Homo sapiens: one gene and its partners. The protein of the gene in region 5 interacts with the protein of the main gene of each other region in a pairwise test. Each region holds a gene or a part of one and is shown on either strand. Other genes may lie near its edges. The genes, in order: TMEM185A, KLF15, LPIN1, ZNF232, HSF1, WDR88 and CHST10.

Evidence for each region.
Region 1: the proteins of HSF1 (region 5) and TMEM185A interact in binary tests that used the Homo sapiens proteins (3 or more experiments, as listed by UniProt).
Region 2: the proteins of HSF1 (region 5) and KLF15 interact in binary tests that used the Homo sapiens proteins (3 or more experiments, as listed by UniProt).
Region 3: the proteins of HSF1 (region 5) and LPIN1 interact in binary tests that used the Homo sapiens proteins (3 or more experiments, as listed by UniProt).
Region 4: the proteins of HSF1 (region 5) and ZNF232 interact in binary tests that used the Homo sapiens proteins (3 or more experiments, as listed by UniProt).
Region 6: the proteins of HSF1 (region 5) and WDR88 interact in binary tests that used the Homo sapiens proteins (3 or more experiments, as listed by UniProt).
Region 7: the proteins of HSF1 (region 5) and CHST10 interact in a two-hybrid assay, tested with the Homo sapiens proteins (one large-scale study listed by BioGRID and IntAct).

The regions. Positions count from the first base shown.
Region 1 is NC_000023.11:149,621,288-149,625,754, reverse strand, and holds part of TMEM185A (transmembrane protein 185A), read left to right. Parts: intron 1-4,467.
Region 2 is NC_000003.12:126,349,942-126,354,408, forward strand, and holds part of KLF15 (Krueppel-like factor 15), read right to left. Parts: intron 3,007-4,467; coding exon of another isoform or gene 2,982-3,006; coding exon 1,900-2,981; intron 1-1,899. UniProt on the Homo sapiens protein: Transcriptional regulator that binds to the GA element of the CLCNKA promoter. Binds to the KCNIP2 promoter and regulates KCNIP2 circadian expression in the heart. Is a repressor of CCN2 expression, involved in the control of cardiac fibrosis.
Region 3 is NC_000002.12:11,822,714-11,827,180, reverse strand, and holds part of LPIN1 (phosphatidate phosphatase LPIN1), read right to left. Parts: intron 2,550-4,467; coding exon 2,390-2,549; 3' UTR 1-2,389. UniProt on the Homo sapiens protein: Acts as a magnesium-dependent phosphatidate phosphatase enzyme which catalyzes the conversion of phosphatidic acid to diacylglycerol during triglyceride, phosphatidylcholine and phosphatidylethanolamine biosynthesis and therefore controls the metabolism of fatty acids at different levels.
Region 4 is NC_000017.11:5,104,853-5,109,462, forward strand, and holds the end of ZNF232 (zinc finger protein 232), read right to left. Parts: coding exon 4,542-4,610; intron 4,201-4,541; coding exon 4,074-4,200; intron 1,682-4,073; coding exon 972-1,681; 3' UTR 884-971; downstream 1-883.
Region 5 is NC_000008.11:144,310,945-144,315,220, reverse strand, and holds the end of HSF1 (heat shock factor protein 1), read right to left. Parts: intron 4,048-4,276; coding exon 3,972-4,047; intron 3,901-3,971; coding exon 3,839-3,900; intron 3,717-3,838; coding exon 3,620-3,716; intron 3,522-3,619; coding exon 3,385-3,521; coding exon of another isoform or gene 3,344-3,384; intron 3,259-3,343; coding exon 2,977-3,258; intron 2,594-2,976; coding exon of another isoform or gene 2,510-2,593; intron 1,711-2,509; coding exon 1,605-1,710; intron 1,376-1,604; coding exon 1,310-1,375; intron 1,237-1,309; coding exon 1,167-1,236; intron 1,097-1,166; coding exon 891-1,096; 3' UTR 501-890; downstream 1-500. UniProt on the Homo sapiens protein: Functions as a stress-inducible and DNA-binding transcription factor that plays a central role in the transcriptional activation of the heat shock response (HSR), leading to the expression of a large class of molecular chaperones, heat shock proteins (HSPs), that protect cells from cellular insult damage.
Region 6 is NC_000019.10:33,169,378-33,173,437, forward strand, and holds part of WDR88 (WD repeat-containing protein 88), read left to right. Parts: intron 1-2,125; exon of another isoform or gene 2,126-2,970; coding exon 2,971-3,063; exon of another isoform or gene 3,064-3,208; intron 3,209-4,060.
Region 7 is NC_000002.12:100,403,202-100,407,668, reverse strand, and holds part of CHST10 (carbohydrate sulfotransferase 10), read left to right. Parts: exon of another isoform or gene 1-222; intron 223-961; 5' UTR 962-993; coding exon 994-1,093; intron 1,094-4,467. UniProt on the Homo sapiens protein: Catalyzes the transfer of sulfate from 3'-phosphoadenylyl sulfate (PAPS) to position 3 of terminal glucuronic acid of both protein- and lipid-linked oligosaccharides.

The DNA of each region.
Region 1 (4,467 bases), on a different chromosome or scaffold from region 5:
AGTCAGTTTACATATCACATAAGAAGATCCATCTCATTGCTTTATGATCATCTATCATTTTCAACCAAAATAGTTCCACCTAGTTTGATCACACATCTTATTCACTAACCTTGGCTCTGACTGACTGTTTGCCATTTCCAAAATTTGAATCCACCCTCAGTGAAAATTTAGCACCATTTGGGATAGTCAGAAGATCAGACTGCAGGTTCTCAAGGTGCTTCCAAGAAGAAAGCTTCAAAGATGATTTGAGTAATGAAGTACCATTGGAATTACTGCATTGCCTCCCAAGGGGACTGGTTAAAGGAGAGAAATCTCATTTGAATGTATAATTTCCAGTTTTAAAAGTATCATTCCTATTACTTGATAATTACACACACATTGTTCTTAGCTGTGTTCTTTGAGGGCCAGGATTTGGAGGTGCTGAATTACGTGCTGAATGAGTGGATGTTGGGTACAAATAGACATCTACCACTGGGAAGTCTTTGTTGTACAGGAGAGACCGTGGATTGAAGGAGTTTTAGATAGTTTCCTAGGACTCCAGAAGTTAAGCTTTTTAATATGGAGCTTGAGTTTTCTAATCATTTTGCCTGATATGTCATGCCTGTACAAGATGACTGGAATTTAAGACAAAAGCCTCGAACTCTGGAGATAGATGCTTTATAAGTGGAGACTCATACTTTGTCAGCTCCAACCTAATAGTGACAACAATGATTGCTAAATGAGATTATTACCTACAATGTGGCAGAACTTTTGTCTTTCATAATACTGCTAAAGCTAGAATGGGTAAAATGTATCATTTACACAGTGCTTTCACATACCCTTGTCTTAATGAATCAGTATATGAGGAATCAGATGAGGAGACAGACCTGGGGGAAAATAACTCACCCAAGACCACACCGCTGATGAATGGCAGTTGAGGAACTTAAATGCAGATCTTCCTACTGGCCTGGGCTCTGCTTTTATTTGGCTTTTGTGCTTTTTTGTATCTACTGGTTAAATGCTCTTAAACATTTTTTATCTTAATAAAACCAGCTAAAGTCTCCACTAAAAGACTTTAAATTTGGTTAATAAGGTGTAAGAGGGGCAGTTCCCTTGATAGTTTGTGAGTATGTCAGGTTGTCATTTGGAGCCATTCTGTCAAGCTTTAGACTGGGATGTGCCATCCAAAGTTTGTGTGTGTGTATGTGCTTGTGCGTGTGTACGTGCATGCAGGCATGTGTTAATGCGCGTGTATGTGCTCCAGTGAAGCCAGCAGCTTCCACTGGAAAAAAACTGATAGGTCTAAAAAGAGTCCAGCTGCATTCTTATGATATGCAGAAAACAGATACTAGAACTTTTACATTCAGAGTCATCATTCCTTTGCTAAGTATATTCTCTCTCTCCCTCCCTTCTTCCTTTTCTCCCTCCCTATTCTCCCAACCCTGCAAAGTGGAGAGAGGGAATTTGAGCCTGAGCAGAAAGCTCCATGTAAATTTCAGAGAGGATACTAGCTTTGGCCCAGGTAGCACTACTTAGTGATTCATCGTATACTAACACTACAGATTCAAATGAGAGTGGAATAAATCCATTCTAAAGGTGTAACTGGAAAAGTGAATTTTAAGAAGTAGTGATTAATGTTAAACCAGAACCTCCCATTTCTCCCAGGTTTGTGGAGAATTAAGCAGTCTATTTTTATACTTGGAATCTGGTCTGAATGTTTCTTGAAAAGTAACTCAAAGTAGTTTAGGCTATGACCATAAGTTATTTTTGTAAATACATTTTCTTATCACTGTATTATTGCATATTATTGTGTATTCTTTTGCAAATCAGGCTTGATATTTCCTTTTGGCTATGCAGTCACCTTTTAGACTTTGCTTGCAAATATATTGATATAGTTAAGATACTATTCTTTCTTTCCCCAACTAGGAGTGTGTATGAATTACATCTTTTGAACTTACTGATTGTATTACTTTGTTTTACTTGATCAACTTTGTAGTTTAATTTTTTTAAAAAGCTAGCTGTTGGGATTACTGATCAGTTTCATTTTTATATCTATATTTCTACTTTTAGTTTTATTATTTTCATGTTTTGGCTTTTTCCCCAAATTTCTTAGAAACTCAGTTTACTAGTTTTCTTTTGCCTCTTTTTTTTTTTCTTTGTTTTCTACTTTTACTTAAACATTTTAAATGAACACATTTTCTCTTGAGTTTTGTTTTGGCAGCTGCCCAGGTATTTTTATGTTTCAATTGTATTTTAGTAACTCTACTAAACTGCTTAACAAATCAGTATTGAAAATGATCCATTTTTTGTCAGTGTTTTTATGAATTGTATAAAATGTCTACCTCTGGTCTCTACTGATTACAATCTACCTTACACACTCATATGTATCTTCTGTCACTCTTGTTGAGAAAATCTGCAGTGGCCCCATATTACCTATTAATAAATTCCAAGGACTTTACCTTGATATTCACATTCCCCTACCATGTTACCACAGCCAACTTCTGGCTTATTCCCCCCAGTACCCTTTCTCCTGTCTCTGCAGCACCCTACCCACCACGATTTATAGAAAGTATTCTGTGTGTTCCAGTCTGCTGGAATTGGAGAGGGGAGGATAAAGAGGGGATGAGCAATGGGTACAATAATACAGTTAGATAGAAATAATAAATCTAGTGTTTGGTAGCACAAGAGGGCAAATATAGTTAATAATGTATATTTGCAAATAACTAAAAGAGTGGAATTGAAATGTGCCTAACACAAGTAAGTGATCAGTGCTTGAGGTGATGGATATCCCAGTTACTCTGATTTGATCATTACACATTGTATGCTTGCATCACAGTATCACGTGTACCCCATAAATAGGCACAACTGTTTTGTATCCATAATAAATAAAAATAATTTTTAAAAAATTGGAAAACATCTTATTCCCTTTGTCTGGAATTCCTTATTCCCAACTTGTTGCCCAGATTCCACTTCTCTTCCCATCTCTCTCAGGGAAATTAATCTTCCAAGTCCCCTAGTTTACCATATGTAGTTACTTGTTGATACATCATCTCCCTCTGTTCCTATTAGTCTGAGCATCTTGAGCGAACGCATTGTTGCTCCTTTTTATGTATCTCACACATTTCAGGCACTCAAATATTTTTAACAATTGTAAATTAGATGTGTGTTTATTGTGTATTGCTGCCCCATGATCCTTTTTTTCTCCCTGGAAAAACTATATATATGTAAAGCAAGTATGTTTTCTTGTTCTGCTACGTAATTATCTTCATATAAGCTTGCTGTTTTTTAAATTTTCTCGTTCTGCTACTTAATTCTCTTCATATAACCTTGCTGTTTTTTAAATCTACTCTTGTGTTCATTTCCGTATTTTCCTTAGGAACTTTGTCTGTTTTATCTGTCATGATTTAAGAGTAGCATGAGGAAGCCCACAATTAAAATATTTCTGTGTATCCTTAAAAAAGAAAAATTGTAAAATTATTTCCATATTCCATGGTCATGTTAGGTTTTTGTTATTTAGGTTTTCCTTATTAGTCCTTTTAGCATTTTAATACTTTCGGCTTTGAAATCTAATTTATCTAATTTTAAAGATAGTAAATTGTTGCTCTTGTCTTCATCCAGGCGTGCTAAACCTCTGTCATCTGATTTCTGATAGTTGGTTCGACTTTTGACTTTGGTTCCAAGCGTAACTCTTGAATGTAACAGGTTTACTTTCTTAATCTAGGAAGCAACCTTTCTTTTTACAGAGCTGTGGTAGGCAGAATAATGACGCCCCCAAGTATGTCCACATCCTAATCCGTGGAACCAGGGAATATGTTCTGTTACATGGCAAAGGGGAATTAAGGTAGCAGATGGAATTAAGTTTGCTCATCAGCTGACCTTAAAATAGATTATTCTGGATTCTCTGGCTGAGCCCAATGTAATTACAGGGCCCTTAAATATAGAAGAGGGAGACAGAAAAGGAGGTCAGAGTGATTCAGTATGAGAAGAACTGCATTCTCCATTGTTGACTTTGAAGATGGAGGAAGGGGCCATGAGCTAAGGAATGTGGCAGCCTCTAGAGCTAGAAAAGGCAAAGAAACATTCTCTCCTAGAGCCTTCAGTAGCATAGTCCTGCTGACACCTCAAGTTTAGCCCAGCGAGACCCATATTGGACTCTGACCTCCAGAATTGTAAGGGTTATGCCTTTTAAACCACTAGGTTTATGCTTTTTAAACCACTAGGTTTGTGGCAGTTTTGAATGGCAGCAATAGGAAATTAATAAGAGAACATTCAGCTCATGTATATTTTTCTAACCCTAGTATTTGAATCATGAATTATATTTTGTGGGTCCTTTTGTAAGTTTATCTTGTTTTCTATTTTTCATGTAATAGACATAAAATTTTAAGTTTCCTTTAAATTATGTCAAAAACCACATAAAATAATCCCTTTTCCAACATTTAAAACATTTTGGTACTTCTCTTTTCTTTAGTTCCACTACTCTCTTTTTTT
Region 2 (4,467 bases), on a different chromosome or scaffold from region 5:
GAGTTTGTATCCTTATGATGTACAAACAACAAGGAGGCCGCTGTGGAGCCCTGCACGCCTGCCCTGGGCTGCAAAGGGCTAGCCCTCCACTCTGCAGACAGGAAACTGAGGTTTGGAGGGGGACCACCCCAAAGGCACATGACAAGTTAGTGGCTGACCCAGGCGTAGGCTCAAGACCACAGCCCCCACATACCTGTGCCCTCGCCTTCTCTGCACAAGTTTCCTGCTTCAATCAAGAGCACTCCTGGCCCTTCTCTCGGCTCCTCTAACCTCCTATGCAGTGTACTTGCTGCTGTGTCCTCCTCTCACAAGCAACCTGTCAGCCATGCACCCACTCGGCAGGCCTAGGTACAAAGCTCAGAGAGGTGGGGACTCCAGGATGGAGACCTTGTGAGGCCCCAGGGTGGGCTCTCACAGAAGCCTCTCCGGTCTGTCTGAATGGGGTGGGAGACAGGACAGAGTGATGTCCTCACTCAGGAGGGGCCTCCATAAACCTAGACACTGTTCAGGAAAATTCCCTTCTCTGGCCAGATTGGCACTCAATGGAAAGGTGGCACCAGTGCCACAACATACATTCCACTCACAGCTCCCTGACCACAGCTCAGCCTCACTGGCCAGAACCTCTGCCCCAGACAACTCTCAAGAGCTCTCAGAACCAGAGTATGGTCAAGAAAACAAAAGCTGCAAACTGCTCCCCGGGTGTTGCACCCACACATAACACATGCACACACAGGCAGCCACACATGGTGCACAAACACCTAAGACATGTATGTGTGCAAACACATATGGTCACACGGCACAGACAGACACAAAGAAAGCAAGATGCATACACATGTGGGTGTGCACACACACAGCCACACACCTGCTGGCGAGGCCCAGGCCTGTATACACCCCCAGGGATACAGATGAGTGTGCCCCGTCTCACACACGTAGCAGCAGCCACAGCAGCAAAGATTTGGAATGTGCCAACAGCACACAGCGCCCCCCAGGCAGGCCAGAGATTCCTTTGGGATGGGCATCAGGAACTGCAGAGGGCTGGCTCTGGCACCCCGGAGCACATGAGCTCTTCGCAAGCAGCCTACATTTCAGGAAAAGGTGGACAGCCACTCCCAAGGAGGTTGAGCAGCACCCGGTGCTCAGGGAAGGGTGCTCCCTGGTTGGGAGACTACCAGTTACCATTTGAGGCCTGATTTCCCCACTGCCATGCAGACCAGACAGCCTGGGTTCTGCCACCTGTGACAGCACCACCAGCTGGCCTAGCCTCCCTCTGGGTTGGCCTTTGCAGCCTCCCAAACATGCTTCCACGTCCCCAGGGAGGAAGCATAGGCGAGGCCCAGCCCATGTGTCCAGAGACATCTGTGAATGAAGCTAGTCCCACTGGTTGGGGAAGCAGCATTTTCAGGATGTGACCTCTCGAATCCGGCCTCTGGGTTCAAATCCCATTCACAAAGCAGAGTGACCTTGGGCAAGTACCTGGCCAGTCGGAGCCCTAGTGTCCTGTGATGTAAGTTGGGAGTGATGGTGGTACTTACCCTGTGGGGCTGTGGGCCCAAAGGGAGCCGCTGCCTGGCCCCTAGACCGCACTCATCCTTCCTCGCCAGCCCCTCAATCCCCACCCTTGTCAGACTGGATGGGGAGACCCAGCTGGCAGCACAGGCCAGTGAAGCCTTACCTGGCCATCAGGAAACTGGACACCAGTTGGCTTCCGGCTTCAGGAACCAGGAGGACCAAGGAAGCCTCCAGGCAACTGTGCCAGCTCTGGGCCTGCACCCGCCTGCCCCTCCCTCCCCTCCCTCATCTACCTTCTGTTAATGGTGGAAAATGGCCCTGCTGCACACCCAAGTAAGCAGACATGAGTGGCTGTGCTCACTGCCCAGGCCTGTCACTCGCTATACTGACCTCCAGCCGCAGCCTGGCCAGGTGCAGGCGAAGGGCTTCTCACCCGTGTGCCGGCGCAGGTGGGCCTTGAGGTGGCTGCTTTTGGTGTACATCTTGCTGCAGCCAGGGAAAGTACATTTGTGCATTTTGATGAGTTCTGCGGCTGGGTTCTTGGGGAACTTCTGGCCCATGAGGAGACCGGCAGGGCCAGGCCCCAGGGGTCCCGATCCAACAGGCTTGGCGGCAATGGGCACAGGGGCAATGCGCACAAACTTGGAGGGCAGGTTCAAGTTGGAGGAGGGTACCACCTGGGGCACGAGTGCGAAGGTCTGCCCCTGGATGTTGACCAGGAGCTGGGCAACCTTGACATTCTCTGGGGCTTGCCCAGGGGAGGCAGGCCCTGTGCCCGATTCCTGCTTCACAGGCACGGGCTGGATCTGCAGCAACACTGGGATGGGGCCATCAGGCGTGGGGCCCCCACCTGGGCCCTGGGCACCTCCTGCACTGGCACCACCTGGTGGAGGGGAACAGCGCTCTCTCCCGCTGGACCCAGGATGGAGGTGGCTCTTGTGTGGCCCAGCTGAGAGCTGGCTGCAGGCATCCAAGTCCTTGCTGTTGCCCTCAGGGACCTCCTTGACTCCAGGCTCCATGTTCTCCTCCAGAAACTCTTCAATCTCCTCCAGGGTAGGCTGGAAGGGCCGTGGGACGTCATCAGGATCACCCAAAGGAAACTCGGGCAAGCAGAAATGCTCCCCCTTCACAGGGGCCGCTGCCCTTCGCCAGGGCCCCCAGGCCACGGGGCCACTGCTGGCCCCAATGCTACTGCCGCTGCCCCCGCCACTGCCCAGCGTGGCCTGGGACAATAGGAAGTCCAAGATGCTGTCCTGGCTCTCGGTGCCCAGGCCTCCACCATAGCAGGAGCAGAGGGCTTGAGAGTCGGGACTGGAACAGGAGCAGGGGCTGGAGGCATCGCTGTCATCTTCAGAGACGGGTGAGGGCAGCATGTGATATGCCCGCCGGCCAACCAGCCTATCACCCAGATACCCAACTGGGCATTTTGGCGACGAGAAGTTCTCGTCCACTGGAAGTAAGTGGTCCACCATGCTGGCCTGGCCGTGCCGGTGGCGGCTGCAGGAAAGGAACACAGGAGGCCTGGTCAGAAGGACAGTGCTCACCTGCCACCTCGCAGGCCTCTGACCCCACCCTCAGCTGCCTGCCCACAGCCTCCTATTGCCAAACGCCTGGATCCTGCTTCCATCCCCCAGGAGAGCTGTGCCTGCAAGAGTGTTTTCTGAAATTGCACCACCTGTTTGCAAAAGAGACCTCTCCAAGCCCATTGCATAACCAGGGGCACTTCTGGTTTCAAACAGATTTTCCAGAATTATCCTGGAAAATAGCACATATGTCTGTGAACAACTGAGTATGGGTGAGTATGAGAGAAGGGCATGCGCGAGGAGGCTCTCTGGACCCCAGGAGGGCCAAAGCCCTGAATCAGCCCACCGTCAACATCATAGGAGTCACTGTACATCTGAGGACTCCTGACCTCAGCTTCACGCCTGTTGAGTCACAGAATGGGGGTAGAACAGCCATTTGCCCTCTGACCCTCATGTTGCTGAGGCTTCCAGAGGGTTGCCAGATTACGCAAATAAAAATACAAGCCAACAGTTACATTCGAATTTCAGATTTAAAAAATAAACTATTTTTAATATAAGTATGTTCCCAATATTGGATAGGACACACTTACATTTAAAAATTATTTCACCTGAGATTCAAATTTAACTAGGCCGCCTGCATTTTAACTGGGCAAGTGTAGCATGTAGGCAAAACAGTCAAAGACCAAAAAGTGCCTGCCTGCGCAGCTGTTTCCCCACCTAAAGCTCCTCCACTCTCCAGTCCTCAAACCCCTCTGAGCCTTGACTGCCCTGTGAGTGGCACAGGCTTGAACGCAACCCTCTCACCTGCACCCTGATGCTTGAGCATCCTGGTGGCCAAGGCCCTGCCCCTCTGGTGATAATCCGTGGAGTGGAAGCAGACCACTGGGGTCCCAGAGCACCCGCATGTGCCTAACTGCCTTGGACTTCACACCCATCTAGTGGGAAAGGAGACAACCACCCCCCCAGCCCATCCTGACCAATAAGGAAGTGGAGTCCCCTGCACTCTCTGCCATTGCTCTCTCCATCTGGGACACTCACCGCCTTGCGAAGGTTCAGCTAATGCCTGTCTCCCCCTGAGACAGTGCACTCCATGTCTCTGCTGCGTCCCCAGTGCCTGGACTGGCCGCTGGTGCCCAGCAGGGGCTCAGAGAACTTTGATAGAGAGGAGAAGGGAAAGCTGCATCCTCTGAAGCCAAGGACATGCTAGGTCTGGTGCCAAGGAGAGTCAATAGTGTCCAGCTGTGACGGGGCCACCTCTGTGAACCTTTGTCCCTGCTCAGTGACCAGGGCAGGCTGGGTGTTTATCAAGCTTGGGGAAGGGGAATGCTCTGCACCAAAGTCAGAGGTTCTCTGCTGCCCAGCATCACCTCTACACCCAGCCCCTCTGTCTCCAGGACCCCTTCAGGGCCTGGCACCCGGCACTGCCCAATGGCCA
Region 3 (4,467 bases), on a different chromosome or scaffold from region 5:
TCTCTATGCCAGGTATACATATTTGTCTTCATCACATGTGACAAACATTTGATGACTTGTCACTAAGTAGGATTCATTTCCATAGGGCAACTTTGAAATGTGTGGTCCAAATACAGCATTCCAGCACATGACCTCAGCATCACTGGGTTATAGTCATGTACACAAAGATAAACCAACTCGTATATGCGTGAGTGCAGCCCATATACAAATCTCACTTTCAGAAGCCAGAAGGCAGGTGTTAATATGCCAGCCTTGCCAGGGCTCACATTGAACTTGACACAGATCTGAGAGTGTGACTTTCTGGAAAGCATGCTCTGTTTCAGGGTGCAGTGATGTGGAAGTTTAAGGTACATCAAAATTCGGGATCCAAAATTGCATCCTCTGAAAACTCCGCCTGCAGGGTGTGCTGCTGCAGAGGGCTGCCTGGATGCCAACTGCATGAGGGATACATCCCCCCATTCTCGCAGCCAAAGTTCCTCCTGGGTGCAAAGGAGAAACCGTCTGAACCTTTGCAGGCCCATGAGCTTATACTTAGTTCAGAGCAGTTAAAATTCACTCAAAAATACCCTCATTGCATAAAGAATGAATATAGCCTCTTTAGGTTACTAGTGAACAAGCGCAGAGGAGTTAGTTAAGGCAGGACTTTTTTTTTTTTTTTTTTTTTTTTGACATGGAGTCTTACTCTGTCACCCAGGCTGGAGTGCAGTAGTGCAAGCTCGGCTCACTGCAACCTCAGGCAGGACTATTTTTAATTATTTTTAATACCTGCAAAAGGGAATCTGCACATGCACATCCGTGTTTCTACAGAAATCTGCGATCGATGGCAGATCTGTTTGCCTTTGTGTGTCCACATGAACCATTTGGCAAAGGCATCCAATGCTAACGGGGCCCACCAACTACAACGGAGGCAACAACTCTGTGGATTTTCTTTCACAGAAAGAGTAAAATTTCATTCAACCGTTCCATTTTTTGCCTCCTGTGATTCTAACAATGAAATTTAAATAGGAAAATGTTTCAATCGTTGGAGTAAAACACTCTTTAAAAAAATAATGCTTCGAAAAGTAAAGCAAAATCTTTTACCAAAATAATTCTTTCACTTTTCAAATTGTTCTGTCCACGAGCCAGTGTAATAAACAAGTGAAAGAATCACATTCTGTAGGCTTAAAGAATGCCAAATTATTACTTTTTCGCTTGCCCTTAATTTGAGTGGAAAAAGCTAAGGAAAATAAATGACTCAGAAATTCCAAAAGAAGGTCAGTCTATGAGAAAGAGAGAATAAGGCCCTTTCGATAGTCTAACACATACATCTTTTTAATATATTAATGACAGTGGTATAGAAAGAATATGAATAAATGCCTATCACAGTAACCTAATCAGAGTAAAACAATACATAATATCTAAAAGAATATAGTTGAACTTCTTGAAACTATTTTCTTAAAACCAACCAGTTTCTTTGGAGAGCTCCCAACAGAAGTCAGTATCATTATCATTTGGCATAAGTGTGCTCAAGTCCACACTGTCAGCACCACCTCGCTGGATGGAAGGAAGCCGGCAGTGTCAAACTCATTCAAAATACTGCCTTAGTAATATTTACTGTCATTTTAATCTAAGGCGTTGCAAAGTTACCATGAGCTAGATAAAGCGCATTCTTAAATGTCTGCCATAGATATATTAAGGCATAAATATTCCAGCCTTGAGCCACAAAAACTGGGGGGAGATATGCCAATGAAATAGACTATCTTTAACCAAAGGAATTAAAGAAAAATTTATCACCTAAAAATGAGACTAGTCAGCAAATACTGTAAGGGGCCCATCCACAAGGCCAAGTCTGAGGCCAGGCCTGGACCCGGTGGCGTCCAGATTTCTATCAGAGACCTCAGATCCAGGTCACATGAGCCTTCACAGCCCTCCCCACTGTGTTCAGAAGGTGGTGGCACTAACATTGCTATAATGGAAATGTGCCCCCTACTTTGCCAAAAACCGTGCACATCTGGCATTCCTCGATTGACCCTGTCCTAGGCGGGGACAGCCCTCAGACAGCCGCCTTCTGCCTAGGTTTCACAGCCCCAAACTGCACGTGAACCAGTAGCTACTTGCTGGAGCAGGCCGGAAAGGCAGCGTCGTAACTGGCATTAAGCCACAACTGAGGAATGCTTTTCACGGTACAAATGCACCCAACTCCTAGCCTAGAAAGTGCTCCCTTCCTATCTTGCTTAGAAATGTCAGCCCCGGGGTGGGGCAGGGGAGAAATGCTTCTCAATTCTCTCTGCTGTCAGGCCAATGATGACGCGCCAGGCTCCCAGGTGGAGCTGTGCACTCCGGGGAGACCTATCCTTTAATGGGTGACAACCAGGCTCTGCACTGCTGGCAAGAGGCTGCTTGGGACATTTTACGCTGAGGCAGAATGAATGTCCTGGTTTTCAAAAGGTGGCAGTGGCTCTCTCCAAAAGGTGAAGTTACTGAAGGTATCCGAACAGGGAAAGTCTGAAGAATGGCTTCTTTTCAGCAACGGGAAAACGTGGTCGACTACTTCACAGAGTCTCACATACCTGGAAGGAAAGGGACATTGTCACTGGCACTGAGCGATACCAGCTATGCACCCAGGGCTGCACGTAGAAGTCAAGAGAGATCTACAACCTCAAGGAGCAGACCGCCTACTTATCGACACGACTCAAGTCATTCTAGAATAATTTGTTATCGATTAATTGAAAATGAGAGATGAAAATGAAGAGTATGCAAACAAGGCATCAGAGAAGGCTCTGGGGAAGAGGTGGGTGGGACCTGACTTCACTTGAAGGACAGGTAAAGGAGATACAGCCAAGCAAAAGACGGCAGGAGGAAGTCACCATGGCCATGGGATAGCGCCTGCTGCAGGGGTCACATATGGGACATCGGGGGAAGAATCACAGACAAGGCACATCTTTGGAGCACCTGACAGAGATTGCTTCATTGCATAGTGAAAAGGAGCTGGGTCCTGGGGTTAAAGAGACATTAATTTGATGTTCAGCTCTGCCATTTACTAGCTGCGTGATCGTGGGCAAATGGCGTAACCTCTCTAAGCCAATTTCCTCCACTGTAAAGGGAGGAAAATAAAAACTATGCCACAGTTTTAAGGATAATTTAAATAAAATAACATATGCAACATTAAAATAATGTATACTGGGTGCTCAAATGTATCTAAATGACAAATTATCAACACGTCTTAGAGAAAAAAGCCCTGGTTGGCATGACGGTCAAGAGACCCGGGCTCTCCTGCTTGCTGTAACCTTGGACAATTGTCTTGCCCTCTTGGAGCCCTTCGTCTTTATAGTCTGTGGAGCTGAATTAGAGCAGGGCTTCCCAATGCTTCCTACAACGTTCTCTTGCTCTCTTTTATTTGCATGCCCAAAAATATGTTGCATGTTAGTTTCTGTGGCTTATACTATGAAAAGAAAGTTGCTATTGCTATATTGAATATGCATGTTCAGACCTCCAGGCACCTCCAAACTGAGATTCTGGCACACCCAGCCCACTGCCAGCCATCCCCAGATTCCTCCTTGACAGTCACTGATCACTGTCTAGTTCCAAATTGCTAAGAACCTAAAGGAACTTCCAAAATCCAGACTCCAGAAGTGTGCATGTTCTGAGGTATAAAATAATGTACTAAATGAAGCCGAGTGTGTATATTTAATAAAGGACCTCCAAAGGACTTATGAGAAACAGTGTGCTTGCACAAAATGGGAAAGTGACGTCTCCTAATACAAAACCAAGAGTTATGTCTTTCCTTGGGATTCAAACAAACAGACAGATTTTTAAAATACCTCCCGGCTTTAAGGCTTATTTGTCTGAGGTTTGTGGCTGCGGCAGCAGGGCCCCTCCCTGCAGGCTTGACTACAAGGCCGCGGTGCACTGGAACCAAACCCACTCTCACACTCCCTGAGCGGCCAGGCCGAGTTCCATCTGCGCGCCTCCCCCAGACCGACCTCCACACACAGTGCTCCTCCCAAGCAGGCAGAGCTTACGCACAGACACTCGCAAACGAAAGGGAAAAAGAACTGAGCTGCTCCCGCTGTGTGGCCCCAGCCTCTGAAGACATTTCAGATGACTGTCCCAGTTCTGAATGACAAGCATCTACTTGGCTCAGAAATAGCTATACCAAGTTCAGCGCCAGAGAAATGTGAGCTTCCTGGGGGAGGAGATTTACTCTCTCACAGGAACAACCCCGCCTCCAGTCCAGGTGTAAAATGTCAACATCCCCTGGCAATGAGTAAAGTCTGCAGAGCTCCACCCTAGGCCAAGCCATGGGCGAGGTGTGCATTTTAACCCTAGAGCCTCAGTCAATGCAATGACCGCAGAGGCCACCTAGCCAAACCCTCTCAGATGCTGGAGTCCCTCTTTCCATGCGTGCATGGCAAGACCTGCCACTTTCCCATTCCTGGACAGCGTCTCATTGGTTCAAAGTTCTTTTTGATCCTGATATGGTTTGGC
Region 4 (4,610 bases), on a different chromosome or scaffold from region 5:
AGACCCATTCACAATAAATACAAATATAACTAACACTTCCCGAGCAGCTGCTCAGTGCCAGGTGAAAAATTCTAACGAAGGCTGGGCGCGGTGGCTCACGTCTGTAATGCCAGCACTTTGGGAGGCCGAGGTGGGCGGATCATGAGGTCAGGTCAAGACCATCCTGGCTAACACGGTGAAACCCGTCTCTACCAAAAATACAAAAAAATTAGCCACGCGTGGTGGCACGCGCCTGTAGTCCCAGCTACTTGGGAGGCTGAGGCAGGAGAATGGCGTAAACCCGGGAGGCGGAGCTTGCAGTGAGCCGAGATCACGCCACTGTACTCCAGCCTGGGCTACAGAGCGAGACTCCATCTCCAAAAAAAAAAAAAAAAAATTCTAATGAAGTAGCCAGGCATGGTGGCTCAGGCCTGTAATCCCAGCACTTTGGGAGGCAGAGGTGGGCAGATCACGAGGTCAAGAGATCGAGAACAGCCTGACCAACATGGTGAAACCCCGTCTCTACTAAAAATATAAAAAATCAGCTGGGCATGGTGGCACATGCCCGTAGTCCCAGCTACTTGGGAGGCTGAGGCAGGAGGACTGCTTGAACCCGGGAGGTGGAGGTTGCAGTGAACTGAGATCGTGCCACTGCACTCTAGCCTGGCGACAGAGCAAGACTCCGTCTCAAACAACAACAACAACAAAATTCTAATGAGGTAGACATTATTGGTGGGCAAACTAGGCAGATCATGCTGGAAAGAAGCAAAACAACTTGGCTACTACTTGCATCCAAAGCATCCTAATTAATATCAGTATCTTCATCAGAGGACATGAAGGGATGATCTACAGGCAGAACTAAGTAAACAGTTTTTCCAAAATCAAGAAAGACACAGGAAAAATCTTAAGGAACTTATAACTTTTATGGGATCCAGTCCTAAAGTAGATTAGACCGATGTAGAATTCTGTCTGGAGACGTTCTCCCCTTCAATTCAATGGGAAGGCTCTTTTCTGGCATGAACTCTCCGATGTCTAATGAGCTCTGAGCACCATCCATAAGCTTTCCCACATTCTTTACATATAAAAGGTTTCTCTCCACTGTGAATTCTCCGATGCTGACTTAGATATGAGCTTTGACTAAAGGCCTTCCCACACTCATTACACTCATAGGGCTTCTCTCCTGAGTGAATCCTCTGATGCTGAACAAGATGAGCACCCCATCTGAAGGCCTTCCCACATTCATTACATTCGAAGGGTTTCTCTCCTGTATGAATTCTCTGATGCTGACCGAGGTTTGAGCTCTGTTTGAAAGTTTTCCCACAGTCACTACACTTATAGGGTTTCTCTCCAGAATGAACTCTCTGGTGGACAACAAGATGTGAGTTATAAATGAAGGTTTTACCACATTCACTACATTCATGGTCTTTCTTCCCTGTGGGAATTTCCTTATGGATGACAACCATCTGCCTGAAACTTTCCTCCTGGGCAGGGGACCACCTCAGTCTCTCCGCTTTGGGATTTCTCTGCTGCAGTTCTAAGGTACCCTCAGAGGTAGCTTCAAATGTAGAGGTGTCAGTAGCAAGTTTTTCTGAGAACACCTGTGATTCCACTTCAGTAATGGGTGGTTGTGGCAATGATCCTTTGTCCTTGGGCTCTGGGCCATCTTCTGTAACAACTGACAGAAAATGTAAATATACCTGTTCTGGATGTATGAAGAAATGACACTTAGATTAAAATGTATATTTCTGGAATGAAAACAAATGCTTAAAAACAACTATATATATGACAAACATTCGAAGAATATTTACTGGATATTGCCAACAGTTATCTCTTGGTGATGGGACTATACAGAGGAGAGGGTTTCTTCTTTTTAATTTCTCCCATTTATCTGCTTTTTTTCCCCTAATTTCTCCATAATGAAACACTAAAGAAGTTTTATTGAAAAAATGAAAGCAATTACAATGCATGGTCTTTTTAGGATTTTTCATATTTTCAAGGAATCAGGGAATGATGTTGTGAAGAAAGGGAAAAACATGAAAGAATCATTAGGGTTAAGGAAAAGGGAGGTTTCTAAAGGCAAAAAAAACTGTGCCCTTCCTGGCTCTGCAACCTTCACCTCTTCCCATCCGTTTCCCAGCTGCATCAATCTATAGCCTCTTTAGAGGACTCTCAACTAACTGCCTCCTTTATCAAAGGGAGGACTTCCAGCTCCCTGCCTCCTATCTGCTTGGTGCTCTCTGCCTTTCTCTTCCTTAAAAAGGGAAAAAGAGTGTGTTGCCGGGCGTGGTGGCTCACACCTGTAACCCCAGCACTTTGGGAGGCCAGGGCGGGTGGATCACGAGGTCAGGAGATCGAGACCATCCTGGCCAACACGGTGAAACCCCGTCTCTACTAAAAATACAGAAAATTAGCCGAGCATGATGGCGGGCGCCTGTAGTCCCAGCTACTCAGGAGGCTGAGGCAGGAGAATGGCGTGAACCCGGGAAGTGGAGCTTGCAGTGAGCCGAGATCACGCCACTGCACTCCAGCCTGGGCGACAGAGCGAGACTCCATCTCAAAAAGGAAAAAAAAAAAAAAAAAAAAAAAAAGAGTGTGTTGCCTTTTTGTTTTTAAATGTCCATAGCACATTTTATGTTTTATCTGTTGTAATGCTCCCTATAGCCTAAGGAGAACAGAAACCAATTGCTTTAAGATAACTCAAGGTCATTTGACTTTTTTTTTTTTTTTGACAGAGTCTTGCTCTGTTGCCCAGGCTGGAGTGTAGTGGCATGATCTTGGCTCACTGCAACCTCTGCTTCCCTGGTTCAAGTGATTCTCGTGCCTCAGCCTCCCCAGTAGCTGGGATTACAGGCGCGTATCACACCTGGCTAATTTTTGAATTTTTAGTAGAGACAGGGTTTCACCATGTTGGCCAGGCTGGTCTTGAACTCCTGACCCAAGTGATCCACCTGCCTTAGCCTCCCAAAGTGCTGGGATTATAGGCGTGAGCCACCGTGCCCAGCCAAGATCATTTGATTTTTTAAAAATTCATTTTTTCAGGTTAAATGCTGTGGTTAAAAAAATCTGAAATATGCTTGCTATATATAAAAAAAAAATCACACAATAGCTAGCTTCTTTTTGAGAGTAAAGTAATAAAATTGATAAATGAATAGAGGCTTACTAAACAGAAGTAAAGGAGACAAGAAAAAGTCTGGAAAAAAGTCAAGGAAGAAAGAAGAGCTAAGAAGTAGAAACATACTTTTGGGACAGAGTCTAATTAATCTCCATTTCTATTTTTTCCCATTTTGTAACTAAGAAGAATTTGATTTTTCAAATGCCTTGGTTTGGTGATAGTGATGGGGGGGCAGTTATGGTGTAAAAGCAAATATCAAGTAGACTCTTCTTGGTTAGCCGCATATTCACAATACGGTCACAAGGCTACAGAGGTCAACAAGGAGAGTTCACGCCCCTGAGGCTCTAAGTCTAGTGTTCGCCGCTGGGAGAGAGGAGAGGTTGTTTGCAGGTATGTATGCAGGCCAAGAAGGAAGTTTCTGTAGTGAATCTGAAGGGTAGAAGGTGAGGGCACACATAAGAGAGTTTCAGATAGGGCTGTTTACATGAGGAAGAGGTGGTAAAGGTGATGACAGGCTGTATCTCACATAGGAGTGCTTTATGGCTTAAAAAGTGTTTTGCGAGGCCTCAGCGAGTTTAAAAAAAAAAAAAGGATCTCAAGGCTGGCCTCTAGCTCAGGGCAGAGTTATTATAGACTAGGAGTTAAGTGCAGTGGAGATGATAAGGCATAAATGAATGAGCTATTTCCTGGTCCTGATTTAGGGCTCTCTAAAGTTAAGAGATGCTGGCCAGGCTTTATATCCAGATAAGACCCAAGTTGAGCTTAATCCTCAGAGCTATCTTATGAGGTAGTTTATTCTTACTCCTAATTTTATGAGTGATGAAACAGGCAAAGTCTCTCACCTAAGAGATAAGAATAGTAAGGCTGTGATGATACCAAACATTTAAGCACCTACTACTATTTACCCTTTACAGGTACTAGGTACTGTGCCCTTTATAGTCCCTCTTTCTCCTCTCCCTCCCCACAGAATCCTGCTCCTCACCACTCTTTGGGAAAGGCTGGGTCTCCTTAGGCTGGAGCTGGATGCTCAGTGCTTCCTGGGCTGCTCCCAGAGATTCCTTCTTCTCCCATGGCTCTTCCTGTGCAGGTCCATGTGCAGGGCCTGGGACCTGGAGGTGATCAGGCACCACTCAGTTTAAATTTTCTTCAAATTACTAGTGTGGTTTCTGTCCCCTGCCTGGACACTTGCAGATGTGACCCTCCTTGGACCAAAGCTTCCAAGGAGACTTTAGAGAGCCTCCTCAGAGTCAGCACAAGGGAAGAAGAGGAGCTAGAGTCTCTTTCTCATTCAGGGCTCGAGGGCAGAAAAGACAGACACAGAAACACATACTAACTGCTCTACCTGGCCCAAGAGAGGTTTGAACTTGGCACCTCCCCCTACAGCTGCCCCTCGGTCCAGCCTGAAGGTCATCAATCTGGCTCCCATAACAGACCAAATCCCCCTTCCCACCTGCGGCTCTGGTTCAAGTCCTTTCTCTAAATCCTCCAGCACAGTCACAGCCTCCTCTCCACTCTTAGG
Region 5 (4,276 bases):
GGCTCCTGTGCCTCTCCCTATCAGTTGGCCAGTGGAGCTCGAGAACAAACTGTTGCTGCCAGATAAAGCAGCAAAGCCTGCTCCACTGCCCAGCGCAGGCCCCCTTCCCTTCCTCCACCAGGCTGAGTGGAGAACCCTAAAGCTACGGGACAGGCTCCCGTTCCCCGTGCCTACACAGGGTGCTGGCTCTGGCAGAAAGACAGTGTGCCCGCCCCGCATCACCTGTCCGAGTGCGAACACCTTGGGAAGGGGGTTCCTGGTGGTCCTGTGACAACCAGAGACCCCCAGGGCCAAGGTGAGGCGCCCACCCCTGGTCCCTCAATAAAGAACTGCAAGCACATGCTGGTCCTGGGGAGTCGGGCAGGCACGGAGCTAGCTGCAAGCATCCGTCTTCCCCCAGGAGGCCACTGCAGCCCGGCCCTTCTGTGCCCTGGGCCCCTCCTCATTGCAGCACCACCCACCGCACCACCCTGGGACAGAGGAAACACATGGAGGCCATAGCATAGAGCCTGTCTGTTTATAGATCTCTGCCTGTCTTGTCCGTCCATCCACTGTGTGTATATATCTGTGTATCTCTGTGGAGCGGGGAACGGGACAGTTGTGTAAAAATCCAAAATACAATTCTGACTATGAACAACCTGCAGGGTCAGTCCAGGTGTGGCTGTGAAGCCCCAACCAAACCACAGGACACGGGGTTGGGGGAAGGCAGACTGGCAGGCCAGGGTGACCCTCCTGACCAGAGGTGCTGCCCAGACCCGAGCCCGTTTGTCCTACTGGGGCTATGGCGGCCGACCCACCAGTGCCCAAGACCGCGAGGCTGCCCTGCCTCCCCAAGACCAGCCCTGCACTGGGGGTGGGGGTGGGCGGCTGGCCCAGCTCCTCCGGGGCCTCTAGGAGACAGTGGGGTCCTTGGCTTTGGGAGGCTCCGAGCCTGTCAGCAGGGAGATGGTGGGGTCCTCGGCGAAGCCGTCCCCTTCGGAGAAGTAGGAGCCCTCTCCCAGCTCAAACAGCACCGGCAGGTCGTTGCTCCCGGTGTCCACGGAGCCGGGGTCCAGCAGGAACAGCGGCTGCGCTGTGTAGTGCACCAGCTGCTTCCCTGCGGGGGTGGGGGTGTCAAGGCGGTGGGGGGTTGGGGGCAGAGGTGGGGCCGGTGGGACTTGGCTCACCTGAATCCGGGCTGCTGTTCTCTGCCTCGGGAGGCCTGGGGGGCTCCTGGGGAGACAGGAGCTCTTGGATCTGTGGGGTGGAGACGGTATTGTGAGCACTCCCGCTGGTCTCGTTCCCCCTCACCCCCCGCCCGCCTACGCACACTGGCCAGGCTGCTGTCAAGGTCAGGCAGGCTCATGTCGGGCACGGTCACCGAGGGGCTGAACAGCTGCGGAGGAGGGAGGGAAGTCAGAACAGCACCCGGGGGCGGGGCGGGGAGGCGGGGCGGGGAGGCGGGGCGGGGAGGCGGGGAGGCGGGGCGGGGAGGCGGGGAGGCGCGGGGAGGCGGGGCGGGGAGGCGGGGCGGCGGCGCGGGGAGGCGGGGAGGCGGGGCGGGGAGGCGGGGCGGCGCGGCGGGGAGGCGGGGCGGGGAGGCGGGGCGGCGGGGCTCCACTCACGTCCAGCAGGGCACTGGTGTCCACGCTGAAGCCGTGGCTGCTCAGCATGGTCTGCAGGTTATCCAGGTTGGAGTCCATAGCATCCAAGTGGTCACTGAGCTCATTCCTGGCCCGGGATAAGGCGGTACCTGAACCAGTGCCCCAGGCCCCACACCCCAATGCCCTCCTGTGGGAGAAGGGCTCCCCTTGACTGTACCCCCCAGGCTGCACCCCCGTGTACGCCTGCACAGGCTGGAGGGGGCAGCGCATTCGAGGACGGCCTGGAAGGCAGTGGAGGCTCTGTGCCCTGCAGGGGTGCGGCTGGGCCTATGCTGGGCATCCCTTTGCCATGAGGGCCTGGGGGCCTTGGTGGCAGTGGACCCAGGAGACAAGGGGCGTATTCAGCTCCAGCACAAGGATCAGGGATTTCAGTGTTCAGGGTTGGTGAGGTTTCCCGTTGCACTGGGAAAACAGGTGGGGCTCTGCTCAGTGTGTGGGTGGCTCAGTCCCTGCCCTGGTGCTGCTGTGGGGATGAGACCCACGGTCTGGTGGCTGTGACCAAGAAAGCCCTAGGCCACAGGGCACACCTGGGCTATGGGACGGACAGCCAGGCTGGGTCCCAGAGGTGCCCTGGAGACCCTGCCTGACAGGAAGTGCAGTCAGCACCGCAGTCTGGATCCTGCCAACACCAGAGGCCGTGCCAGAGCAGGGAGGCCTGTCCCTGTCATCCCTGTCACAGGCAATGACCACAGGCCCGTGGCCAGGGGAGCCATGACGACACTGAGCCCCCGCCACAGAGGGGTCTCGGCTGCTGCCGCCCAGGCCCGACGCTCATGCCCGGCCAGGCTGGGTCTGGTCCACGGCTGTGTGGGAGGGCCCGAGCGCTGGCAGAGCCCTCCTCCCTCCCCAGTGGGGTCAGCGCTAACCCTGGCTGGACTTGGCCATGCGGAGAGGAAGAGGGGCAGGGGAAGAGGCGGGCGACCCTAGACATCTGTGGAGTGCGAGCCAAACTGCAAGATACAAAAACAAGAGCCCCCATTGCAGGCAGGGGCTGGGGGTGTGGAGGCCGGCCCTGCTCACCATCTCCTGCCATGTGTCTGGGCAGCACGACCTGCCAGGGCCCGTGGCCTGTGGCGAGGGTGGCGGCAGCAGGACGGGTGGCTGAGAGCAGGGCCCGGCAGCCTGTCCGGACATGCCCGTGGCTTCTGTGGCGTTTGGGACTGTGGGGTGATCTGGCTGGCACCTGTCTCCCTCCCCAGCCCCGAGCTCCGAGGTTGGGGGTAGGGTCCTGCCTCGCCAGCTGCCCTGCTCAGTCCACTGGGACAGTCGGGGCTGAAGCCCAGGGCTGTGCGTCCAGGCGCTGTGGGTGGGGCCAGGGGTGGGCGGCACTCACTTGTCCAGGCAGGCTACGCTGAGGCACTTTTCAGGGGTGGAGGTGGGCGGGGGGGAGGGAGGCCGGCCCTCGGTGTCCGTGTGGCCCCTGGCGTCCGTGAGGGCTGTGACGGAGGCGGGGGCAGGTTCACTCTCCCGCAGGATGGAGTCAATGAGGGCGGTCGGGGACAAGAGGGTGTCCACGGAAGATGGGCGCCCGGGACTCGCCTCCTCTACCCGGGGGCTCTGAGGCGGGCTGGGGGGCTCCTCCTTGACACGCACCAGGGGGCTGCTGGATAGGGGCCTGCACACGAGGGGGGCCAGGTGAGCTGGCGTCTCGGCCAGCCCCACCTCATCCCCAACTCTGCCCTGGGCCCACAGGGGCTCGCCTCATTGGGGGACAGGATGGCTGGGGTGATGCGGCCCCCACCTCTCGTCTATGCTCCCGCCGGGGGAGGCCATGGGGCTGGCAGGAGCCAGCTCGGTGATGTCGGAGATGATGGGTCCAGAGCTGGCCACAGCATCAGGGGCGTAGAGGCTGGAGCTGCTGTAGGCTGGGGAGGGGGCCTGCAATCAAAGGCAGGAGGTCCATGCAGTGCCGGCAGGGGCAACCCACCCCACTGCCGCCTGCATGCCTGGGCGGGTGCCCTGTCTCCGGCACTCACCGAGTAGGGGCCCGAGCCGTGGACGTGCTCCAGGGAGAACTGCCGGCTATACTTGGGCATGGAATGTGCTGAGCCACTGTCGTTCAGCATCAGGGGGCTGTGGGGAAGGGTGCAGGTCAGCCACCACCCCCCACCTCGGGGTACCCGGGGCACAGCTGACAGAGAAGGGGGACAGCCCTGGGCCCCGGGTGGTGGATGCAGGCATCCCCAAAACCTCACATCTTTCTCTTCACCCCCAGGATCCGGTTTGACTGCACCAGTGAGATCAGGAACTGAATGAGCTGTGGAGAGAGAGGACACAGTTACCCCGGCCCTTGTGGGGCCCCCGCCGGCCCTCTGGCCCTGCCCCCACCTTGTTGACGACTTTCTGTTGCTGGGCATGCTTCTGCCGAAGGCTGGCCACCTCCCGCCACAGAGCCTCATTCTCACTGCAACAGACCAGGCTGGGTCAGTGGGGCCCAATCCCATGAGCCCCAGGGCTGAGGGAGCCCCACAGACCCTCCCTGTCCCCCATGCAGGAGCAGGGGTAAGTGTGACCATGTCTGGCCTGGCCCACCCCAGGATGAGAACTTGTGTGTGGAGGGACTGGGGGCCAGGGCCAGGGCTTGCTGGTCCCACTGCCCCTCCCTGCCGGGGACACCTGGTGTCACGTAGGGT
Region 6 (4,060 bases), on a different chromosome or scaffold from region 5:
TTCGAAAACTCAACAACAAAAAACAAACAACCCATTTCAAGGATGGGCAAAAGACTCGAATAGGCATTTCTCCAAAGAAGATATACAAATGGCCAAGAAGCATATGGCAAGATGCTCAACATCATTAGTCATTAGGGAAATGCAAATCAAAAGCACAGTGAGGTATCACTTCACATCTATTAGGGGGTCTATAATAAAAGAACTCAGAAAATAATGAATGTTGGCAAAGGATGTGGAGCAACTGGAACCCTTGTGCCTGACTGATGGTGACAGAGTGAGACCCAGTCTCAAAAAAAAAAAAAAAAAAAAAAAGATTTTACTTACTGGCAACAACAGGTTTTTTGATTTGTAGGCTTTATTTCCCAGCACTCCAAAAGTGTTCAATGTACTAAATCTATAAGCTTGCTTTGAAAGACCAGGTATTTGTCAATGAAGTCCTTTGCACTATAAATTCACGGTATAGGCTATATCTATCTAAAATGTGCATTATTTATTTATTTTATTTTATTTTATTTTTGAGATGGAGTTTCTCTCTTGTTGCCCAGGCTGGAGTGCAATTGCACAATCTTGGCTCACCGCAACCTCCGCCTCCCGGGTTCAAGTGATTTTCCTGCCTCAGCCTCCCGAGTAGCTGGGATTACAGGCATGCACCACCACGCCTGGCTAATTTTGTATTTTTAGTACAGACGGGGTTTCTCCATGTTGGTCAGGCTGGTCTTGAACTCTCGACCTCAGGTGATCCACCCACCTTGGCCTCCCAAAGTGCTGGGATTACAGGCGTGAGCCACTGCGCCCAGCCCATTTATTTATGTTTTAAAGAGACAGGGTCTTGCTGTATCGCCCAGGCTGGAGTGCAGTGGCATGATCTCAGCTCACTGCAGCCTGAACCTCCCGGGCTTAGGCGATCCTCCCGCCTTAGCCTCCCGAGTAGCTGGGATTACAAGGTGCCCGCGATCATGCCTGGCTAATTTTTTGTATTTTTAGCGGAGGCGGGGTTTTCCCATGTTGCCCAGGCTGGTCTCAAACTCCTGGCCTTAAGTGATTCGACCGCGTTGGCCTCCCAATGTGCTAGGATTACAGGCATGAGCCACTGTGCCCGGCCCATTTTGACATCTTTTCTATGGTCAGAAATGATAATAGCCATCTTGTAGGCACATGTTTAAGGAAGATATCTCTTTCCATTTCTCTAATTGAAAATCTTGGCTGGGCACGGTGGCTCATGCCTGTAATGCCAGCAATTTGGGAGGCTGAGATGGGCACATTGCCTGAGCTCAGGAGTTTGAGACCAGCCTGGGCAACGTGCCCAAACCCCATCTCTACTAAAAATACAAAATATTAGTGGGGTATGGTGGCGCATGCCTGTAGTCCCAGCTATTCGGGGGGCCAAGGCAGGAGAATCACTGGAGCCTGCGAAGCGGAGGTTGTAGTGAGCTGAGGGCATGCCACTGCACTCGGGCCTGGGTGACAGAGTAAGACCCTGTCTTAAAAAAAGAGAAAAAAAGAAAGAAAAAATCTCATTAAGTGCTTCTGTACATTTCGAGGAAGGTGAAAAGTGGCCCCAAACACACTATAGGTGTGTATCACCACACCCAGCTAAATAAAAAATATTATTATTATTATTTTTTTGAGACAGAGTCTCGCTCTGTCACCCAGGCTGGAGTGCAATGGTGCGATCTCGGCTTATTGCAAACTCTGCCTCCCAAGTTTAAGTGATTCTCCTGCCTCAGCCTCCTGAGTAGCTGGGATTACAGGCATGCAGCACCAGGCCTGGCTAATTTTTGTATTTTTAGTAGAGACAGAGTTTCGCCATGTTGGCCAGGCTGGTCTCAAACTCCTGACCTCAGGTGATCCGCCTGCCTTGGCCTCTCAAAGTGCTGGGATTACTGGTGTGAGCCACCATGCCCAGCTTGAAACTAACTTTTGAATTAAAGTATCTAAGAGCTGGGAGGATGTTTTTTGTTGTCATGATTTGACAAACCACTTGCTATACTGTAGGAAGTATGCTTATTGGTAAGATCTGACAGCTTTAGGCAGCATGAAGTCAACACATCTGTTACAAAAATGACCCCTTTGTTCTCCCACAGGATATTTAGTTGCAACTGCTGAATCAAGAAATGTAACATACTCAATGTATCCATTTTTTTATTGCTGCTATAATAAGTTACCAGACTGTACTGTTTAAACATTAAACAACATAAATTTAATATCTTACAGTACTGTAAGATAGAAGTCTGATAAGCTCTCACTGGGCTAAAATCTAGGTATCAACAGGACTGCATTCCTTTCAGGAACTATTATTAACTAAGGTCCATGGTTTTATAGTTTCATGCTTTGTGTTACTGTATATTTTTGCCAAATGCATATCATATATCCACCAATACAGTGTCATATAGTTTTGTTTGTTTGTTTGTTTTGAGACAGAGTCTCACTCTGTCGCACAGGCTTGAGTGCAGTGGTGCGATCTTGGCTCACTGCAACCTCCGCCTCCTGGGTTCAAGTGATTCTCCTGCCTCAGCCTCCCAAGTAGCTGGGACTACAGGTGCACGCCACTGTGCCCAGCTATTTTTGTATTTTTAGTAGAGACGGGGTTTCACCATATTGGTCAGGCTGGTCTTGAACTCCTGACCTCACCCACCTTGGCCTCTCAAAGTGGTCGGATTACAGGCATGAGCCACCGCGCCTGGCCATACAGAATAGTTTTACTATTCATCCCTCCTCCTCTTCCCTATAATCCTGGGCAATGACTCATCTATTTATATTCTTCAGTTTTGCCTTTTCCAGAATGTCATATGGTTGGAATTATACTCTGTAGCCTCTTCAGGTTGGCTTCTATGGCATAACAATGTGCATTGAAGGTTCCTCTGTCTTTTTGTGCCTTGACAGCCCATGTCTTTTGATTGTTGAATGACATTCCTTTGTATGGATGTACCACAGCCTGTTTTGTGACCGCTGGTTTGCTATTTGTTTTAGGATAGGACCATGAGACTGTGGAATATTGAAGAAATTGATGAAATTCCTTTGGTAATCAAGTACAAAAAGGCCGTGGGCTTAAAGTTGAAACAGGTTGGTATTGGGTAAAATTAAGCCCAGTGAAGGCTTTCGTTAGTTCCCTCTATAAATTAATTTATCATTTGAATGAACTTTGGGCACCTGGAGATGCAATCGTGAACAAACAGACTGACATTTTTGCCCCAGGGGAGCTTAAATTCTAAGAGAGGAAACAAAGAGGAAAGACACAAGAAAAATGTGTAGTAAGTCTCATGGTGATAAGTAATTGACAGAAAAATACATAGCAAACAGGAGTAGGAGTGCTGGAGGTTGCAAGATTTTAAAGGGTGGTCAGGATAGGTCTCATTGAGGACTGACAGCTGTGTCGACTTGAAGGTGGTGAGGGGGTGAGCCATGCAGATATTTAGAGGAAAGAACTTCCAGCTGGATGCGGTGTTTCACGCCTGTAATCCCAACATTTTGGGAGGCTGAAGCAGGCGGATCACCTGAGGTCAGGAGTTCGAGACCAGCCTGGCCAACATGGTTAAGTCCTGTCTCTACTACAAATACAAAAAAATTAGCCAGGCTTGGTGGTGCACACCTGTACTACCAGCTACTCGAGAGGCTAAGGCAGGAGAATCCCTTGAACCTGGGAGATGGAAGTTGCAGTGAGTTGAGATTGCGCCACTGCACTCTAGCCTGGGTGACAGAGCGAGACTCTGTCTCAAAAAAAAAAAAAAAAAAAAAAAAAAAAGAGAAGAAAGAACTTCCCAGCATAGAGAACAGCCAATGCAGAGAGAGCCTGAGAGGCAGGAGCCAGCCTGGTGCATCGGAGGGGTGGAGTGAGGGGGCTTGGAGGGGATGAGACCTGCAGGAGCACTGGTCAGTGGAGGAATGGCCGGGTACACAGCTGGGCACTGCGTCAGCCTCCTACCCTGGGCAGGTCCCCAGTGCCCCACTTCCCATGCAAAAGGCTTAGGTGCCTGCGCTTCTCTAGTGCAAGAGCTTGGTGGTCAGGCCAGCATATTTTCTGCTTCACCAGGCACAGCTGGGGCTGGCCACAGAGGCTGTC
Region 7 (4,467 bases), on a different chromosome or scaffold from region 5:
AGACAAGGAGAGTGATTCACCTGGGTCTTCATGGAGCTCTGACCCACCCAGGGTTAGGAGGCTCTCTCTGAAATTATTTGCCATCAGCACTGTGTTGAGGGGACCACTTCTCCCTGCCATGCAGAAGTGATGGATGGCCTCAGTCAGTCGGTGGAAGCCAGCTCAGCCCAGGGTCTTGTCTGTACGTGGAGAGCTTTGGCTTGAAGAAGCACTGTGTTAAAGGTGAAATGAAACACACTTTCTTGTGTCACCTGCCAAGAACTGACAGTGACTTCCCAGTTCTTTATGTGCCTCCTGCAGGAGAGTGTGGCTTCTGTGCCAGGCTGAGGACCGACATGCCCCGTGTTGCTCCCTGGCTGTGACAGCATGAAAAACACCCACCTCAGTGTTCTACCCAGGCCGCTGCTGGCAAGTGGGCGGAGGCGAGAAGCGTCAGTGTTCATTCCTTTGCTTTTTTAGAGCTTCTCTAGGTGTGGCTACATCTTGTCAGCCAGTCAGAATTTTAAACACAGCCAGCTCCTAATTGCCCCAGCATGGCTTCTGCCCACTATGAATGACCCTCAGCTAAGGCCTAGTCCTTGGCAGGCCTCTTCCTGCCACCTGCTTCCAGACCATCGTGGGAGCTCACTGGGACCTTAGCCTGGGCCCAACAGGAGTCAGGGATCAAATGTGCAAAGGAGTCTTATTCTGTGTTCTGAGAACACAAGGAAGTGGTCTTCTCTCATTATCATGTCTCTCCATTAGGGTGTTCTAAATTTGATTTTATTATTGAATCAATCATTTATATTATTAATTCAATATGAAATGTTAAATGCCAAGTCAAACTACCTATTGTAGCAGTGGAAAAAAACGGAAATATTTGTGCTGATACTTACTGACTGAAATCACCTGTCGTTTTCATTCCTCTTTGTTGACTTGATGTATTTGTAAGCAGCAGGGGCATCTCGCTTGTGTTTTCCAGGAAGAGTCAGTGAATGGCTGCGGTGTGACAACATGCACCACCAGTGGCTTCTGCTGGCCGCATGCTTTTGGGTGATTTTCATGTTCATGGTGGCTAGCAAGTTCATCACGTTGACCTTTAAAGACCCAGATGGTACGTATGCTTCATGGTGGAACGAATTTTGGCTAATTTAGACCTAGCTGCAACACTGTTCCTAGGTACATGCATAGATGACTTCTGTCACAGAGTCAAAGGACTTTCATGCCAGCAGGGACCTTGGAGGTCATGGCCTCCGTTCCTTCATGTTACAGAGGTGTGAGGGGAGGTAGGGTGGGAGGGGCTGGAGGGTCTTTTCAAGCATCTCCTCTGGAGGAAGGAAGCTGCTCTTTGTGGCTGAGGCCTGGGTGGTGCCTAGGAGCAAGGAGCAGGGTCTCCTCCCAGCAGCACAGTGGCCTTATGCCTTGCAGCAGGGCGCCTCTCAGGCTCGCAGTTGGGAATTCTCTTTGCCTCATGTCATCATGAGAGGTGCAGCCTCAACTGCTTGGCATGCCCGTGTGGTGGCCACATGTTTGAAGGTCACCCTCCATGCAGCGGAGGAGGGTCATTTAAATGTATGTCTTCAGGTTGTCTTGGAGGCTTTCTTAGCTCTCCTTTACTGAACGTAGGCATTCAGATGAGGACGGATAAAGAGCGCCAAATTGGGTCTCAGAATGCTGATTCTACTTCGTGCTCTTGTCATTTGCTTATCTACATCACAATGTTTCTTCCACCAAATGGACACCCTGCCTGCTCCGGCACCGCCCATGATTGCCCTGAGCATGGTGAGGTGCTCTGTGGTCTGTGGAGTGCTGGATATGTCCAAAGAGGTGTGTGATATGCTCTCCAGCCCCGAGGCCACTTCATTGAGTGGCCAAGCAGGCAAGCACGAGGAAGCCAGACACATGGAGTCATTGAAGTCCTCATTTGTGCCGTGGATTGGCCCATTCCTTTAGGCTGATTGGGAGATACTGGGGAACGTGGATGAGCACAGCACTTTGCTGTGCTCTGCACCGTACTTTGTCCTCCTGCCGATGGTGGCCTTGGAAAGGGGCAGTTAGAGATGCCTCTGTGCCAGCAGTTCTTCCTGGAGGCTGCACTGACCTGTGCTGTCTGTGTGGGACAGGCCCCTGCTCCACCTCACAGAGCTCCCAGGCATGTCCCTGGCTGTGTCAAGGACTGCCCGATGTCCTACACCTCCTGCCCCATCCTCTCTCTGCCCCACCTTGTCTGCAGAGGGACAGCAAGGTTAGAAGGGAGGTCTGCAGGGAAAAGAGGGACACCCTGAAATTAGCCCACATGGTGGTTCTCCCCATGACAGTTGTTGGGCCCTGATTGGCTGTCATCACATGTCCTGCCTCATCCTCCAGGAGCCCTGGAGAGAAACCTGTGAGGTCTGCACAGCCTCGGGAGGTGATATTACACCTGCAGGTATCTGGGCAGGTGTCACTGAGCATGACAGCTCACGCCCGGGACTCGGGGTTCCGTCAGCAGAGCAAGGGTCGATTCTTGGAGGGTTGCTGGAATGTGACACGATGATCTCAGTTTGACAGTTTGGACATTTCCATGGCAGCTTCAGCACAGTGCCATGCCACTGAGAGATCCCTCCTGAAGCCCTAGAGCCGGGTTCTCATCCCCGCAGCACTTCAGAATCACCTGTGGGACTTTACAGACCTGCTGCTGCTTGAGACCCAGTGAAGGAGAATCACTAGGGGTGGGGCCCAGTTGAGAAGCACAGTGGTAGATCCTAGCTGGAGAACTGAAGAGAAACAGAGCTGCTGAGAATAAGAAATAGGTGTTACTCAGGATTCTCCTAAATGTCACCTCCTGGTATGGAAGGCACTCAAAAGGCAGGTCATGAGGTTAAATTGTTTATGGTTTATTTTGCTTAAAAAAGTAGGAGTAGATGTAATACATTTTAGTGAGACTTCTATAGGTAATAGTTAAATAAGACTTGTGCCTTTGTGTTTTACTGTTATCTGGCAGAATGGCCTCTAAAGAATGCCTTGTTTCCCAGCGGCATCTGGTAAATGAGGTCTCATTCTCCTTTGATGTATCAAGTTTTGTGCTGAATGTTTTCAGTGTAGACACTGATCCTGGAAGCTAAGCAGGGGTAGGCCCGGTTAGAAAAAAAGCAAGTGTAGGCGCAGAACAGGGTTTTGTGAAGCGGAGAAAAGGAGTGGTAAGGAGTGTTAGGAGATAAAACCTATGAAGAAAGATGAAGGGCTTTCGGATTTTACACCTGGAGAGGAGCACCGCAGCGGTCCTTAATACTGCCTGTGAGATCTTTCCAGCCGGCTGCCTTCAGGCGAGTGAAAGGGGGCACTTTCCCTGCCCTGTGAGATCTGGTGTGGTGTGTGGGTGCTGGGTCACTGAGATGGGAGTGCTGCCCCTGACCCCGAGGCAGGGGCTGCTGGTGGTGAGGATGCTGTTGGCCGCACAGTGTGCAGTGAACTCAGTGAGAATCTTCTGTTGTGGGCCCACTCCCGTTGCGGGGTGACCACCACAGCACTACCCAGCCTGCCTCACTCGCGTGAGATGTTACCTAATTGTCCCAAGGGACCTGGTTAGGTTAGGATCCTGAAGGTGGATATCCGCCAGCTGAGTTCTGGATGCAGGATGCGAGCTGGCACCCAGCATCTTGCCAGTGCACAAGGACGCTGGGCTGAAGCATCAAGAGCATTTACACTCAGAGCCTGCCCCTGCAGGCGTCAGAGAGGCCCTGGGCTGGGGTGGTGTAGGCCTCTCCCCTGGAGCCTGCCCTTCCAGCACTGTGCTTTAGAGAGTGTGTCCCGGAGCCTGGATCTTGGGCAGCACAGGAACCCCTCTAAGCTCGTGGCCATAAAGGGCTTCTCACATGTTGGAGTTTATTTCACACACGTTCACGGTGTTTTTGATTATGAACCAGAAGCCCATTGTGAAGTGTCAAGACCAGGAAATAACAGACACGGCAGTGTCCACGGTGGGGAGTTCCATTTCCTGGAAAGTGCGTGGAGAAGCCTTGGCCTCAGTGCTCCCGGGCTGCTCCTTTCAGCTCTGTCCTCTGGGACAGGGCCAGCCTCAGAACCCCCATCAGTGGTGTGCATGTTCTTCTCACCTACCTGCCTTTCCCGGTTTCTCCTGCCACTGGAGCCCCTAGGAAGAGCATGGTTGTCGTGAGTTGCTGTTTAAAGCAACACTTACTTTTTTTAGTGTTACAGTTTCTGTTCAGCTCAGCAGTGGAGCCAGTGATATTTGTGGCAATGATTTATCCTCAGTTAGCAAATTTCAGTATCATATTGAACTAGGATCAGGTGTTGTAACTAGACTTTCTCATAAGAAAATAAATCCCCCTCAGCGAAGGGAATGTGATGGAATCATATGGCAAGACTCAAAATGATGCCCTTGTGGACCTGGTTTGTGTTTGTAGGCGCTGGTTTTTCCTCTCCTGGTTGACTTCCTCATTGGTTCTGAGCCGCTTGAGGGCAGAGCCTGTGATGTGAAGGTCTCTG